Linked DNA regions of Homo sapiens. The protein of the gene in region 1 interacts with the protein of each later gene in a pairwise test. Each region holds a gene or a part of one and is shown in the gene's direction. Other genes may lie near its edges.

Region 1 (3,500 bases):
AACAATAACTTTCGGATAAAATTGAAATCACCCCAATGCCAAAAAATATTTTTTATGAAAGCATAACAGCTGCTTACGTTAACAGAGCCTTGGGCTGGTCACAGTGGCTCACGCCTGTAATCCCAGCACTTTGGGAGGCTGAGGTGGGCGGATCACTTGAGGTCAGGAGTTTCAAACCAGCCTGGTAGCATGGTGAAACCCCGACTGTACTAAAAATACAAAGAAATTTGCCAAGCGTGGTGGTGTGTGCTTGTAATCCCAGCTACTCGGGAGGCTGAGGCAGGAGAATTTTTTGAACCTAGGCGGTGGAGGTTGCAGTGAGCCAGTATTGCTCCACAGCATTCCAGCCGGGCGACAGAGCAGGACTCCATCAAACAAACAAACAAACAAAAACAGAGTCTCATTATTTGTAGAATGACCAGTGATTTATTGATATTTGAATTCTTGATACATTGGAGTGATGAAATTTCTTGGTGCTGTTTCACAGTCTTTGTGATGCCTTTGAAGAAGATAGTGGAATACCAAAAAATATATATATTGCTAGTTTCTTTATCATATTATTTACAAAAATATGGAGAAAAGCTTTCATTAAAAAAAAAATCGATGTGTTACATTGGATGGGGAAGACTGGGCTGTTGGTGAAGCAGAGAAGGCAGTTGGCAACTCACCCAATAAGACAATATTTGTTCTTTGAGCTTGTTAAAAAGTTTCAGTGTTTCTGAGACTATATATGCACATATGTGTGCATGCACACACATGAACATTTGAATTGGCTGGAAAACAAGCAGACTGAGAAAGAGAGCCTGCTTCCACTCTGAGGACTGCTCATGAAGCCCCTCAGGAATCTTTGACCTTGTTTCTGGTCTACAAGATTTCTGGCTTCCACCATTTAGGAGGGATGGAGGTTTTGGAATGAATCCAGGGAGCAAATAAATGGCTTCTTTGAGGAAAGGTGAGAAGATGAAGTACTTTGCCGCTGAAAGGAAAGAAAGCTAGGAGTGACCCAGAAATGATCTTCAAAGTACACACAAAGGCTTTCTTTGGAAATGTGATGAAGTGTTCTCACTCTTCATTGGGGATGAAACTCAAGAACTGGCCCAAATTAGAAAGGAATGATGTTTTACAGCAAGACCTTCCTAAGAGTGTTGCCATCATTGGAGTGGCTTTCCAAATGAGGCCATAGAATTTTCTTTCAGGAGAGCCCTTCTTACAGGCTATTTATGAATGGATTATCTAGTCATATTTTAAAGTTTTAGGAAACACTTAAGTATTTGCTATGTGCCTAGCACTATGTTAGATATTGTAGGGGAGGAATGAAAAGATGGATGAGACACAGCCCCTGTACTCAAAGATTTTTATAATCTAGCAATGGAGACAGAGATGTCTACAAACAGTACGGTGACATGTAACAAGGAACGAGAGGGCGGGCTCAATGACCATGTACCCCGAGTATCTATTATATATCCATAAGTATATCTACCCATGGGTGTCACTACACATACAGTTTATACGGCTGAGTACTCCAAGTTAGTCCTCTTCCCACTGGGGTTTGAAGAGAAAATCTGATCAGAGTGGGAATAGTTTGTTGACTTTTCCTTGTTAAGTCTGCTCTTATGAGGCCAGCAAAGTCATACCTGGCCTGGCCCCTGCCTGCTTCCAGCCTCATCTTGAGCCATGATCTCTTAGCTCTGGACACAGAGTTTGAACACACTGTCTTCCCTCTTGCCACTGGTCCTTTGCATATGCTGAGCCCTCTGTGTGGCAGGTTGTTGTCCTTCCTTCTGCCTAGTTAACTTTTAATCTTCCCTGAGATCTGGGGGTTTAGTCTTCACTTCCTCTTCTAACCTTCCTGATAAAGTCAGTTCCCCAACAAGGGGCTCCCAGAGGGCCTTGTGCCAGTTTTCAGTAGCACCACCGCTTTTATTTAACATGTACTTAGATTTCTCTGTTACATTCTGTCTCCCCATCCGTATGAGTTCCACAAGGACAGGGACATGTCTGCATTTGATCTTTGTGTCCTCAGCATCTAGCATAGTATATGTTCAATAAACACACACTTGAATGAATGAAGCAGTGGATGGATGGAGAACTAACTTGATATATTTTAGGCATGAGGTTCTGCTCCAACATTAAATGCTTTGTTTAGTGGGGAGAAATTGCCTCCTAACCTCCCCCAAAACTCTGTGGCTTGAAACAACAACAATTTTTTATTTCTGTGTACTAACCAGACAGTTCTGCATTGTATGATGTTATATGGGCACTGGGATGGCTGGAAGGTCCAGAGTGGCCTCACACATGTGGTTGGCAGTTGGTGCTGGCTGCTGGCTGAGAACTCAACTAGAGCTTTTGGCAGCGGCTCAGTTTTTCTCCACCTGGGCCTCTCAACATGGTTGCTTGAGCTCCCGGATAATATGGTGGCTAGGTTCCAAGAAGTGAAGGCTGAAGCCACAGCTCTCCTAAGACCCAGTTTTGAAAGCTACACTGTATCACTTGTCTTGCAAACTCAAGTCAAAACAGGTCCAAGAGCCTGCTCAGTTGCAACAAAAGAGAAAACAGACTATCTTTTGATGGGGTGCAACAAGGTCACGTTATAAAAGAGCATATGGGTAAAAATACACACACACACACACACACACACACACACCAAAAAACAGCAAGTCAAATTCAGTGCCAATAGTATAAACAGGAATGTAAAGATTATTCAATTTATATAACAAATTAAAGAAAAATATATGTTGATTTCAGTAGGTGCCAAAAAAGTATTTGATAAATTTTGTAAGTTAAGAATAGAGCATATCTAGAGGCACGTGATTTTAAAAAAAGAAGAGAAGGCAGCTCCCTAAATCTAATAAAAATTATCTACTAAAATCCACAGCAAACATCACACTGAGCAGAGAAACTAGAAACAATATATGTATGCAGCAGTCAGTAAATGAGCAAATAATGTACATTGGGGCCCTCATCCATATTTTTGCATTCCCTGGTTTCAGTTACCTGCGGTCAACTGAGGTCTGAATGTAGGTGAGTACAGTACAGTAGCTATTTTGAGAATGAGAAAGAGACTACATTTCATATAACTTTTATTATGACATATTGTTAACATTGTTCTGTTTTATTATTAGTTGTTATTAATCTCTTACTGTGCCTAATTTACAAATTAGACTTCATCTTAGGTATATATGTATAGGAAAAAACATTATATATATATATGTATATATATGTAAATGTATATATGGTTTGTTACTATCTGTAGTTCCAGGCATCCACTGGGGTCTTGGAATGTATCCCCCACGGTTAAGGGTGGACTACTATATATTATACTACAGAGTACTATTCAGCCATTAAAGAAAAAAATAAAGCCACCCTGCGTGTAATGATATGGAAATGCATTTAAGACATTCATTTGAAATGCATTCAAGTGAAAAAAGTAAGTTACAGAATAATGTATAATAATATTTCATTAAAAAAAAAGAGCATATGGAATGGAAGATATGGTTGCA
Region 2 (3,500 bases), on another chromosome or scaffold:
TTATTGGTGACCTGCCTCCATTTAAGTGTTACAGAAGGAAAAGTTTGTCTTGATTTTGAATGTTAGAGAGCCTATTACAAATTATTATTTTATCTTTTTAACATGAATACACACTTATAGATCCACAGATTCCTGGGACAAAATGAAATACACAACTTTGTTGGTTAGGAGGACATTAGATGTAAAATTCAGGGCAGGTTTTTCAAAGCAGCAGTTCCTGATAGCTATAGACATGCAGTAAGAGAACCTAGGGTTATTAGCATGGGGCTCTGTCCTGATAGAGCACCAGATGTAAAACATAGAGATTATGATGCTATAAAATGAGAGCATGGTGAACTGCTTTCTAAAACACATCAGTTCTCCTGTTGAACCTGACTTTTGATTTCCTGGCATGTCCCTCTCAGCCACCTAGACTCTGGCCATCTCTTATGCTTCCTATAGCATCACTCACTCTAGCTCCTCCTCTGACTTATATATCTTGATAATTCTGACATTTTCAGCTGTGTTCTAGGCATTGTGATCATTGTTTTGGATATATTATCTCATTTACTTTTTGAGAACAGCTTGGTGAGGTCGAAACTGTTATCCTTCTTATCTCATACGTAAGGATGCTGAGGTTTAGAGAGATGAGGTATTTTGCCCAAAGTCACATAGTGTAGAAGAAGAAGAGCTCTGATTTGAATCCTGAACTTTTCAAATGCACATCCTCTGCTTCTAATCATTTTGAGTTACTGTCTACAAATAGCCAGTAGATTAGGATGTCTTGACAGTTCTACCTCCTCCTTACTGCTTGCTTCTACTCTCTCCTCTCCATTTCCACTATCATCATTCTTGTTCTGACCCACATTGCTTCTTAAATACTGCGGTGCCACCACATTGGTCTTTCATCCACCAGTGTCTAAATGTTTAAATCCATCTTTACATATAGCAGCTAAGTACCTTCTAAGAGCAAAAATGTATGTCATCTTATTGCACTTTTACTCACAAACCTTCTGTGGTGTCTCTTTGCTCTCTAAGGAAGGACCAGCTCTTTAACTTTGAATTAAGCTCCTTCTCCATAGTGGGGCTTAGGGTTCGCAGCTGGAGCATTGTTCTCAAATAGGGTCTGAAGTAGGGAGTCCTTGTTTGAGACAAAAGGAGAAACCAAAGGAACAGATAAAGCCAAATTCTATGTCAGGGAACTAGGGTCCAAGGTATCAGGAGGGAAACCCAGAAGAGGGCAAATCTAGTTGGATGTGTATGTGCATTGAATCAACCTGGAATAATTTTCTAGATTATCAGTTCTATTTGTTTTGTTTTGATTTTGTTTTTGTTTAACTCTATTTGCTTTTATTTGCTAGCAGCCGTGTGAGGGATCCTGCCGTGAAGGAACTGAGATGAAGTAGGCAGGCCTTGGACTCAGAGTTCTTCACAGATATCATCCCCCACTCCCAAAACTCCCCTTCCTGTTCCCAGTAGTCCAGCCACATGGGCCGTTTAGCATATTACACATATACCTCCTGCCTTCCCCCTCCCCCCCCCTTTTTTTTTTGGCCTTTTCCCTTGCTATTTCATCAGTAGGCAATAGCTCCCAATGGTTTTCACTTGCTGAAAGCTTGCTCTTCCTTCAAGACCCATTTCAAGTGGCACCATATCCATGAAGCTCTGTTGCATTCGTTTGGCTGATAATCAGAGTGATTATCTCCTGCTCAGAATTCTCACAGTGCTATTTATGTGTCTCTTTATCCCTTACCTTGGAATGAAGAGTTGTGACTTGAACTTCGATTCATTCAGATGCAGACACTGCTTCTGTGTGATTTACCACCTATAAATAACCAATGGGTTGTCACATCCTGACAATTTTACCCCCCTCCTCCACTCCCATCTCTTAAATTCTTTGAGTCCACTTATTAGCTGTGTGATCTTGTGCAAGGGTTTTGACCTGCCTGAACCTCAGATTCCTTATCTCTCGAATGACGTAACAGTACCTATTTCCTAGTGGTTCAGAGGATTAATTGAGATAACATACATAAAGTACCCAGCACAGTACCTGGTGCAAAGAATTGATTGAGGACTAGGAGAGAAATTTAAGTCAGGGACCATAGACCACACACTCAGACTTAGAAATGAACTGGAAGAAACCTGTGTCTTTCTATGTAGAGGAAGCCATGTTTTTCAACAATTGGATCTGAATGCCTTTCACACATTAAGCTGTCTTCTAGTCAGGAAGCTGTGGATGTTTATTAGATTATCTTTTGATGGTCTTAAGGATGAGTTGTCCTGGAAAGTCCAGTAATGTGGGAGCCTGGCCTCTGGAGGACCTACATGTTTCTTATCCAGTGCTGAGGCCACCAAGTCATCATCCTCTCATTCTCTCAGCAGACTGTTTTGTCTTTGCCTTTACGATTTGACATTAAATGCAAAAAGATTGTTTCAGAACTTGCTTCGAAGTCATCTCAGTCTCTGAACACATCTGTCTCCAAGCCCAGCTTAGCTTTGAGGAGGTCATCCCGCTCAGCTGCTAAGCAGACCATGTTCAGTCTAACTTTGCCTCTAATTGTGCAGTGACCCTTCTCCACACTCAGGGGAAACTTCAGACTAATCAGATTAGAAAATGTCTCATTCCCATTCCCCTCTCCCTCCAATATGCCCTGCCATGATTTGGGTCACATGCTTAGTGTTTTGCATCATCTCTGCAGATTCCTTTCAAAGACTGCCCTAATTCCTAATGGGCCCATCAGCCTGCAGCTTACATTTATATTCTGCATTCTTATTGTTCCCCACAGACTCCACAGGGCTTTACAGAGCCCTGACCAGAGTCTCTTTCTGCACAGCCCTCCTTATGGCACGCTAAGCCAGAGCCCCCTCTGACGTCTACAGTCTCCCGTGGGAGGCAGGCATGGAGCTTGTTGATTTTGTTCAATGCATGCTCTTGCCCAGGAATAGTTTTACCTGCCTTGGAATGGAGCTGGGCAGCTGCTGAGCAGCCGTGTAACCCTGCTGTGTAAATTCAGATCAGGAGATGAAAAACAATATGGCTAAAGGGTTGGATGCTTTCTTTCACCCAGTAATTGTTACCCATGTATTTCTCCTAACCCTATATTTTGGTACCAGGATTTTCCTTCTACTCCATTCCCATTTTTCTTATAATTCAGCTTGATCTTTTCCTTATTATGTTAACATAACTCAAACTGGAATCAGGACTTCAAAACCTTTTTGTACCTGGTTACCTCAGCCCCTGTCAGTTTGTGCTGTGGGAGCTGGTATAAGGTCACCTTACTTACCAAGCAAATTCATTTCATTAATGCACAGAGCATCAGACTTAAATGTTCTATATAGTGGTAGCGATTATCCATTAATAATAGGAGTGATACTTTGTATTGATGTAGTGCTAAGGGCCTTAGAATATTTTGTAAATTTTTGAGCATATTAAAAGGTACATTTTAATTGGCAGTAGGCATTATTCCTCATTTCATAAGTATAAACTCTGAGAGTCTCTCACTGAAAGACTGTGCTCCAGG
Region 3 (3,500 bases), on another chromosome or scaffold:
ATGAAGCAAAGTATCAGCATGTGGGTAGCACTGAGGGGCAGTATGCATGTACACATGTTTTCCACACATATCGTAGAAGTAAATGCATTGAGTCCATAAAAGAGGAAATGAAACAATTGATGCTACAAAATAGGAAATCAAAGAAGAAACAACAAAATTATTGCATAGGCATTGGACTGAACTACATCTGTGAATAACACATTAAGCAAATGTTTAAAAGATGATACTTTTGATTTTTAACAGAAATATGTTTCTGTATTTTGCCACTTAATTTATGCTACTCATTTAAACTGAAATATTTGGAAATTGAATGAACAGTGCCACGTTAGGCAGCCTAGCCAACCAGTACCTGGATTTTAGTTCCTGAATCACTGAGCTGTATGTTCACAATTCGACAAGCCTTGTTATCAGTTCTGAGGCATAGCTGACGTGGGGCGAGGGATTAGGTAGTTCTAGATGACTAGGCAGTTAATTCTTAAGCACAGGTGAGTTACTTTAAATCGGTTCACAAAGCATTAAAAGGATCTTGGTGATATGCAGGCTTTTGAACATATTTACGTTGCGATGGTACTGTTTGACAGGGATATGATCCTTTTTCTGTGATAAGTCCTTGTGATTTATTGAACAAGTCTCCAAAAGTGAACTTTCAGTGGTCTTGATGGTATGCCTCCAACTGTTCCTTTTCAGCTGTCTCTCTTGACCTCTGCAATGTGCATTTCTGAATGATTTTAGCTTCTTTTAGCTAAAATGAATTCTATCTCTTAGAAGGTGCACATTTTGTATTTCTATTCTAATCAATACTTCCTCCCACTGCTTTAATAACCCAAAGACACTTTATTTAAGTCAGCAGCGAACAGGGCCTGAGTCACTTTAGTTAAAATCTGGGCTCCCCTCAATCTGAAATCATTTCATCTCCTAATTTCCTTTTTAGTTTTTCTGTATACACAGCAGGCCATCTGAAAATAAGTAATCAAAGCAAGACCTTTTACTGAGAAAATGAGATAAGCTTATTTCAGAATTCTCAACTTTCTCACTTCTTGAAAAACATGTCCCCTTAAGGTCTTTGAACAATCTTTAAACAGATGTCTTTCTCTTAAGGCCCACTTCCAATCTGATTTCTCCCAGATTTTCTTAATATTGAAAGTGGGGAGTTGATGTTTACTTATACCAACTACATGGCAATTCTATTTCCAAAAGGCTTGTGAAAAGATAGAAAACAGATGATGCTTGTTGTCTGATTATTTGCCTTTCAAGAGTAACTTTGCTGTGATAGACTCATATAAATTGCTGATAAGAATTTAAATTACTACTTCCTTTCAAAAAATAAATTTCCCGACACATATCTGGAGTTTTTAAAATGTCCTGCCCTTGGATCCAGTACATCCTTTTCTAATAATCTATACTAAGGCAAAATTTAAGCATTCGATGATTTGTGAACAAAATCAGCATTGCATCATTATTTATAATAACAAGAGGTCAGAACTATCCAACTGATGTACAAAAGATGAAAGGTTACAAAATATATGGAGTAGGATAATATAAAGGAATATTACTTGGTCACATTTCAAAGTATATGCAATGACATGGAAAATAGATACAATTGAATTTTTAGCATAAAATACTATATCAACTGTCAATATATTCCTAAGTAAAGTCATAGAAAGAAAACATAAATAGAACTCGTTAAAAGTGTTGTTTCTACATTGTGAAGTTATGAGTAATCTCTCTCTCTCTATGTATGTGTGTGTGTATATATATACATATATATGTATATGTATACGTGTACATATACATATATATGTATACATATATACATATATGTATGTGTGTGTGTGTGTGTGTGTTTCTTTGGTTTTTATATGAGTCTGTAATACTTTTTAAATGAGACAAGTAATTAATATTTTTTAAGAAGAATGAAATAACCCCAAGAGGAGAAACCCTCCTTTTCCTTCAGGGTAAATCTACTGTAGGTATACTCTTTCTTTCTAGTAATTCATTCTCCTTGTGGCTGCTCTATTTTTCACAACACATGTCTCTGGATTGTAGTAGTAAATTAGCAACAAGAAAACCAGGTCTCAAAACCATAAAAATAGCTGCCACATACCCATGATCTTTAATATAAATATGTACTTTAAAGCACTTTACAATTTTGAAAGACTCTCCCATAAAGCCACCTTGAAAGTGTTGTTTGTAATGTCAGCTGTGTGAAGGCAGAGTTTTGTCTTGTTCACCTTTATACCCTAGCGTCTAAAACAGTGGAGATGGAGTGCATATTTGCTGAATCAATAAATTAATGTGTTTTGAACATTAGTGGTAAGATGAGATTGCAGAGGACATAATCTCACATGATACTAACACTGGCCCTCTGAGGAGGATATAGGTTTTATTATCCCCAGTTTATAGGAAACAGAGGCAGAATGATTGATCTGCACAAGATCACAGAGCTGGTAAGTGGCAAACATCTATTTGAACCAATTCTCTAGATTAGGGCTTAGTTCTTAGTATGATTCTAACAAAACTTCATGATTTTTTCATTGTCTCACCGTACCTAAAGGCCATGGTGTCACTTAATACGTTAGCATTTATCAAGATTTTGTTTTCTATTCAGCATAGAAAAAAACACATGGGCTCAGAATTGTAACACGGCTCATATTAATTTCTACTCATTCTTCTCACTGCATTTACTGTATTAGCCCATTCTCGTGCTGCTATGAAGAAATACCCAGAACTGGGTAATCTATAAAGAAAAGAGGTTTAATTCCCTCACAGTTCCACATAGCTGGGGAGACCTCAGGAAACATACAATCATGGCGGAAGGCACCTCTTCACAGGGTGGCAGGAAAGAGAATGAATGCAAGCAGGGGAGATGCCAGACACTTATAAAACCATCAACTCTCATAAGACTCACTCACTATCACAGAATAGCATGGGGGAAACTGCCGCCATGATCCAATTACCTCCATCTGGTCCTGCCCTTGACACATGGGGATTATGGGGATTACAATTCAAGGTGAGATTTGGGTGGGGACACAGAGTCAAACCATATCACTGCCTGTCTTCTTTCTTATCAGGAGTTGTTATGCATTCAAAGAATTTCCTTGGATAAATTCTGAGTTTTCTAGATTGAATATGGTGAACATGGCCCTTTGGATCCTATGATTCATAGCAATGTAAGAAGCCTGAATCCTTTCTAGAGTACTTTTTCTTAGTAAAGCCTTAGGACTTTCTGAACACTTTCAAACGTATCTTAAAACAATGTATTTGTATTTAAAAACCCCCCACAAAGTTACAAAAATACACACCTACTATTTTTTCTCATCTCTGTATCCCAATTATTATGAGTACTAGCCTCTATCAACTCAAAAACTGGCCAAAGAAAGGATGAAAGTTTGAAAACCCAGGAAGTTAAAATCTACCCAGGGCACTGCTGTGAGATTCCAGTGCAGTGATGTCCTGGTAGGAACAGAACAAGTCACCTTTCAGGCAGGTGCCCTTTACTT
Region 4 (3,500 bases), on another chromosome or scaffold:
GCTTTTGGGTAGGAGGATGAAAATCAATTTGTCTTATGATTCTTTGATAATTCCCTTAATATCAACTTCTTGCTTTCCTCCTGTCCCTTTCCAGGAAGTTTCTAAATGACAGCCCTGCTTTCCAAGATACCCCTTGCAATCTAGAGTGCTACCCATGACCTTGAAAAACCTGAAAACAATGACCCTTGTACTTTCTAATCTCCTTTATTACATTTCTGATAGTAGCTTGTGTTCTGGCTCTCCAGGTCTGAGATCTGTTCTCAGTTATTTCCCTGCTTAAGGTGATGTGGCTACCTTTACAGGACATCCACCATAGCGCATGTTTTCTCTTCTGCACCATCCCCATCTGACTCTGCTCCCACATGGTCTCCAGAGAAGTCTCTGCTGCCCTCAGACATTTATTGCACCTCTTACATATCCGTCAAGTTTCTATAAGTCTAAGCCTCTTTATTGTGTTGACAGGTTTGCAGCTACCAGTGATTTTATTTTTTTCTCATTTTTGATCTTTGGAGGTTGGCTTGAGAGAGTGAGATTTAGTCTGTGTTCACGTTCTAAACTATGCAATTTTCAAAGGATACTATTTTATAGCCATAGTCATCTATTTTTGTATTGATTACAAAAAATTACTTTAAGAGACTGATTTATTTGGATATTACAAAACAGACATCTAAATAAGTCTAGCAAATAAATTCAATGTAATTTAAGACTGAAAGATAAACACATTCAAATCTTGAGGGATACTGCAAAGCTTAAAAATAGGTATAACATCAATACATATGTAAGGAAATAGTTGTGTCTGGCATTAGACAATGGCTCTCATATCTCAATTACAGGGAGTGTAGTTGAACCCAGCTGCTACCTTCTGAATATTTGCAAATCAATTACTGGAACATTCACATTGGTTTTAGGTGACTCTTCACTGGCCTGCCAAGTGGCATATAGTGCATTCTTTTGGGAGTTTTCTCCATTGACTAGGTCCATTTAAAAAGTGATTGTCATCTTGGTACAACTTGAGGAAAAAGTAAATACACTATTTTGTATCTGAAGTGGCTGTTGATGTTTTCTTCTTTAGGAAATAAATTTATGACTTTAGACATTTTTGAGTTGAATTTGGAAGTTAATAAATATTTTCTCTAAATGATTTCAGTTCTCCCTCATAACACTAGGTTGTAGGAAAGAGTTTTCTTATGTTATAAAAAAGAAAAATTGAGGCAATCAGTCTAAAAGGAGAATTGGGACTCATCTGTAGGTTATTTTATTAAAAATCCTCTCTGCCTCACTGTGTTCACTACTATAAAATGTAAAACAGCTCTGGCAATAGCAGTAAGAGTTCAGAGCCAATGTACGGAGAAGTCCTTTTCATGTTATGTTATGGTAAGTCTAGTAACTGGATTCTTTTAGAGTGCTGTCTTAATTTTGCTTTGTGTGTAATCATTGTCATTGAAATACAGAAGGGCTTTTTCCTGGAGACTGTCATTATCTGCTTTCTCTTTCACTTAACAGTTATTTATGGAGCACACATACAGTGTGTGTCTGGTGCTGGGCTTATGAGCAAAATGACACAGTCCTGGTTTCATAAAGCTTACATTCCAGTTGTTGTTAATGATTACAATTGTCAGTATCTTTTCAACAATATCAAGCCATGGCAGTTGAAGAATGAGTAAATAGCTATGTTTAGAAAATGATCCAATGTTTTATCCTTCGGAATAATCACAATATTACAGTTTTTACAAGCAACTCAACTGATTCTGATATTCATACTTATTTTTCAGAACCAGTCCGTGTTTGTCCAGTTTCCTTTTATACCATGTTCTCCCCAAATCCTAACATTCCATAACTGCACAGACTCTTCTTGGTCTTGCACTGTTCAAACATTTTTCTTGCTTTCTGTGCTTGGTACACTCTGGGTCTGGCTGTGCTTTTCTGCCTTATTAAACTTCAATTTGCAGCTTAAATATCAATCATTTCCTCAAACAACCTTCTCCTTTTACCTGATTTATTGCAGGCCTTTCTATGACACTCAATTTTTTTTCCTTTGTAAAAAGATGCCCAATGTTACTCATATTCTATTTGTATTTTTAAAGTCATATATTCAGTTCCTCTTTGTTTCTTGATACATAAATAAGCTCAATAAATATTCATTCAGTAAGTGTAGTATTGGATATTTATGTACTTTTTCTCGACGTTTAATAAGAAATTGATGTCATTAAGTGAACAAATATTTTAGTGCTTACTGTACAAAGAATGTACTTTTACATTAAAATTTTCAGAAAACAGGTTTCAGTAATTTCTGCATTATCTGAAATTCATTTAATGCTAGAACACGCTATTGGTTAAAATTCACAGTTGAGTTAGAATTAAAATATTTTAGGAGTTTCTCTTCATCATCAGAAGCAAAGCAATGGAATTCTATTTCCATTTGATAAAATTATTGTAATTTTTATGATAAACTCTGAGAGCTTAAAATATTACCTGACTTTTTATTTATCATTTTAAGGTACATGCAATTAAATGCTTTTTAAGTTAGTGAATTTTCATATGATTCTTGGAAAAGAATGATGTGATAAGAAACAGTTTTACAAAATAAAAACTAAAACTTCTTATAATTTTATAAGACTTTTACTTTTTAATATATGTTATACACATATATTTATCAAATAATTTGTATGTTTTGATAAATCTGCCAATAGTAAAACATCAGAAGGCATTATTTAAGCTTTGTTGTTGCTACTGCTAAAATCATTACTTAAAAAAAATCTTAAGAGTTAAAATTTATTCATTCAGACCATGTATTACTTATTTAAAACCTTGGTTCTACTTGTTATCTGTTATTTAATGTTAAATCAATTTATTTAATTTTAACATTTAAAAGAATACTGCAAGTTCACAAAGACTTGACACAGCATATTTGTCCTTGCCCAAAAATACATTTGCTCTCCTTATATTAATTTTTCATTGCTAAGTTGCTGCCTTCTTGTGGCAACTTTATCATTTTTATTCTGATAAGTGAGGCAATGATAGAAACTTTAAGTATTAATCTTAACAATGAAAGTAATGGCAGGTACTAAATTAAATTGTGATATAATATTTTCACCTCATATTCCCAAACAAGCATCCCAAATGTCAAACTACATCATCTAAAATTTGACCCTTAGTTTATTATATATAATTGGTAAATGAGGTCTAGTGCCAAGAATGTAATTTTGGTTTCCTACATTTTGGAAGCCAGAACATCTCTTAGATTTGGGAACAGAACATTTTCTACAATAATGGTACAATTATATATATATGAAAAAGCAGTTTTTAGGCTTTTATATCATAATTTATTATGATACTATAAAGGATATTGTTGAAATGTAACATTTTTCTAAATGTTGACTAAGTTGTTGGGCTTTTAGAATTTAGCATGTCATAGCAACAGATTTTATAACAGTATAATAATTATAAAGTATGTTGCAATGAAGCCATTATAATCAACAATGTTAAAACAAGTAATTTAG

Evidence for each region.
Region 2: the proteins of CACNB4 (region 1) and EFHC2 interact in binary tests that used the Homo sapiens proteins (3 or more experiments, as listed by UniProt).
Region 3: the proteins of CACNB4 (region 1) and PTN interact in a two-hybrid assay, tested with the Homo sapiens proteins (one large-scale study listed by BioGRID and IntAct).
Region 4: the proteins of CACNB4 (region 1) and CCDC102B interact in binary tests that used the Homo sapiens proteins (3 or more experiments, as listed by UniProt).

The regions. Positions count from the first base shown.
Region 1 is NC_000002.12:152,092,545-152,096,044, reverse strand, and holds part of CACNB4 (voltage-dependent L-type calcium channel subunit beta-4), read left to right. Parts: intron 1-3,500. UniProt on the Homo sapiens protein: The beta subunit of voltage-dependent calcium channels contributes to the function of the calcium channel by increasing peak calcium current, shifting the voltage dependencies of activation and inactivation, modulating G protein inhibition and controlling the alpha-1 subunit membrane targeting.
Region 2 is NC_000023.11:44,172,673-44,176,172, reverse strand, and holds part of EFHC2 (EF-hand domain-containing family member C2), read left to right. Parts: intron 1-3,500. UniProt on the Homo sapiens protein: Microtubule inner protein (MIP) part of the dynein-decorated doublet microtubules (DMTs) in cilia axoneme, which is required for motile cilia beating.
Region 3 is NC_000007.14:137,232,234-137,235,733, reverse strand, and holds part of PTN (pleiotrophin isoform 1 precursor), read left to right. Parts: intron 1-3,500.
Region 4 is NC_000018.10:68,892,080-68,895,579, forward strand, and holds part of CCDC102B (coiled-coil domain-containing protein 102B), read left to right. Parts: intron 1-3,500. UniProt on the Homo sapiens protein: During interphase, forms fibers at the proximal ends of centrioles to maintain centrosome cohesion. During mitosis, dissociates from the centrosome following phosphorylation to allow centrosome separation. Contributes to CROCC/rootletin filament formation.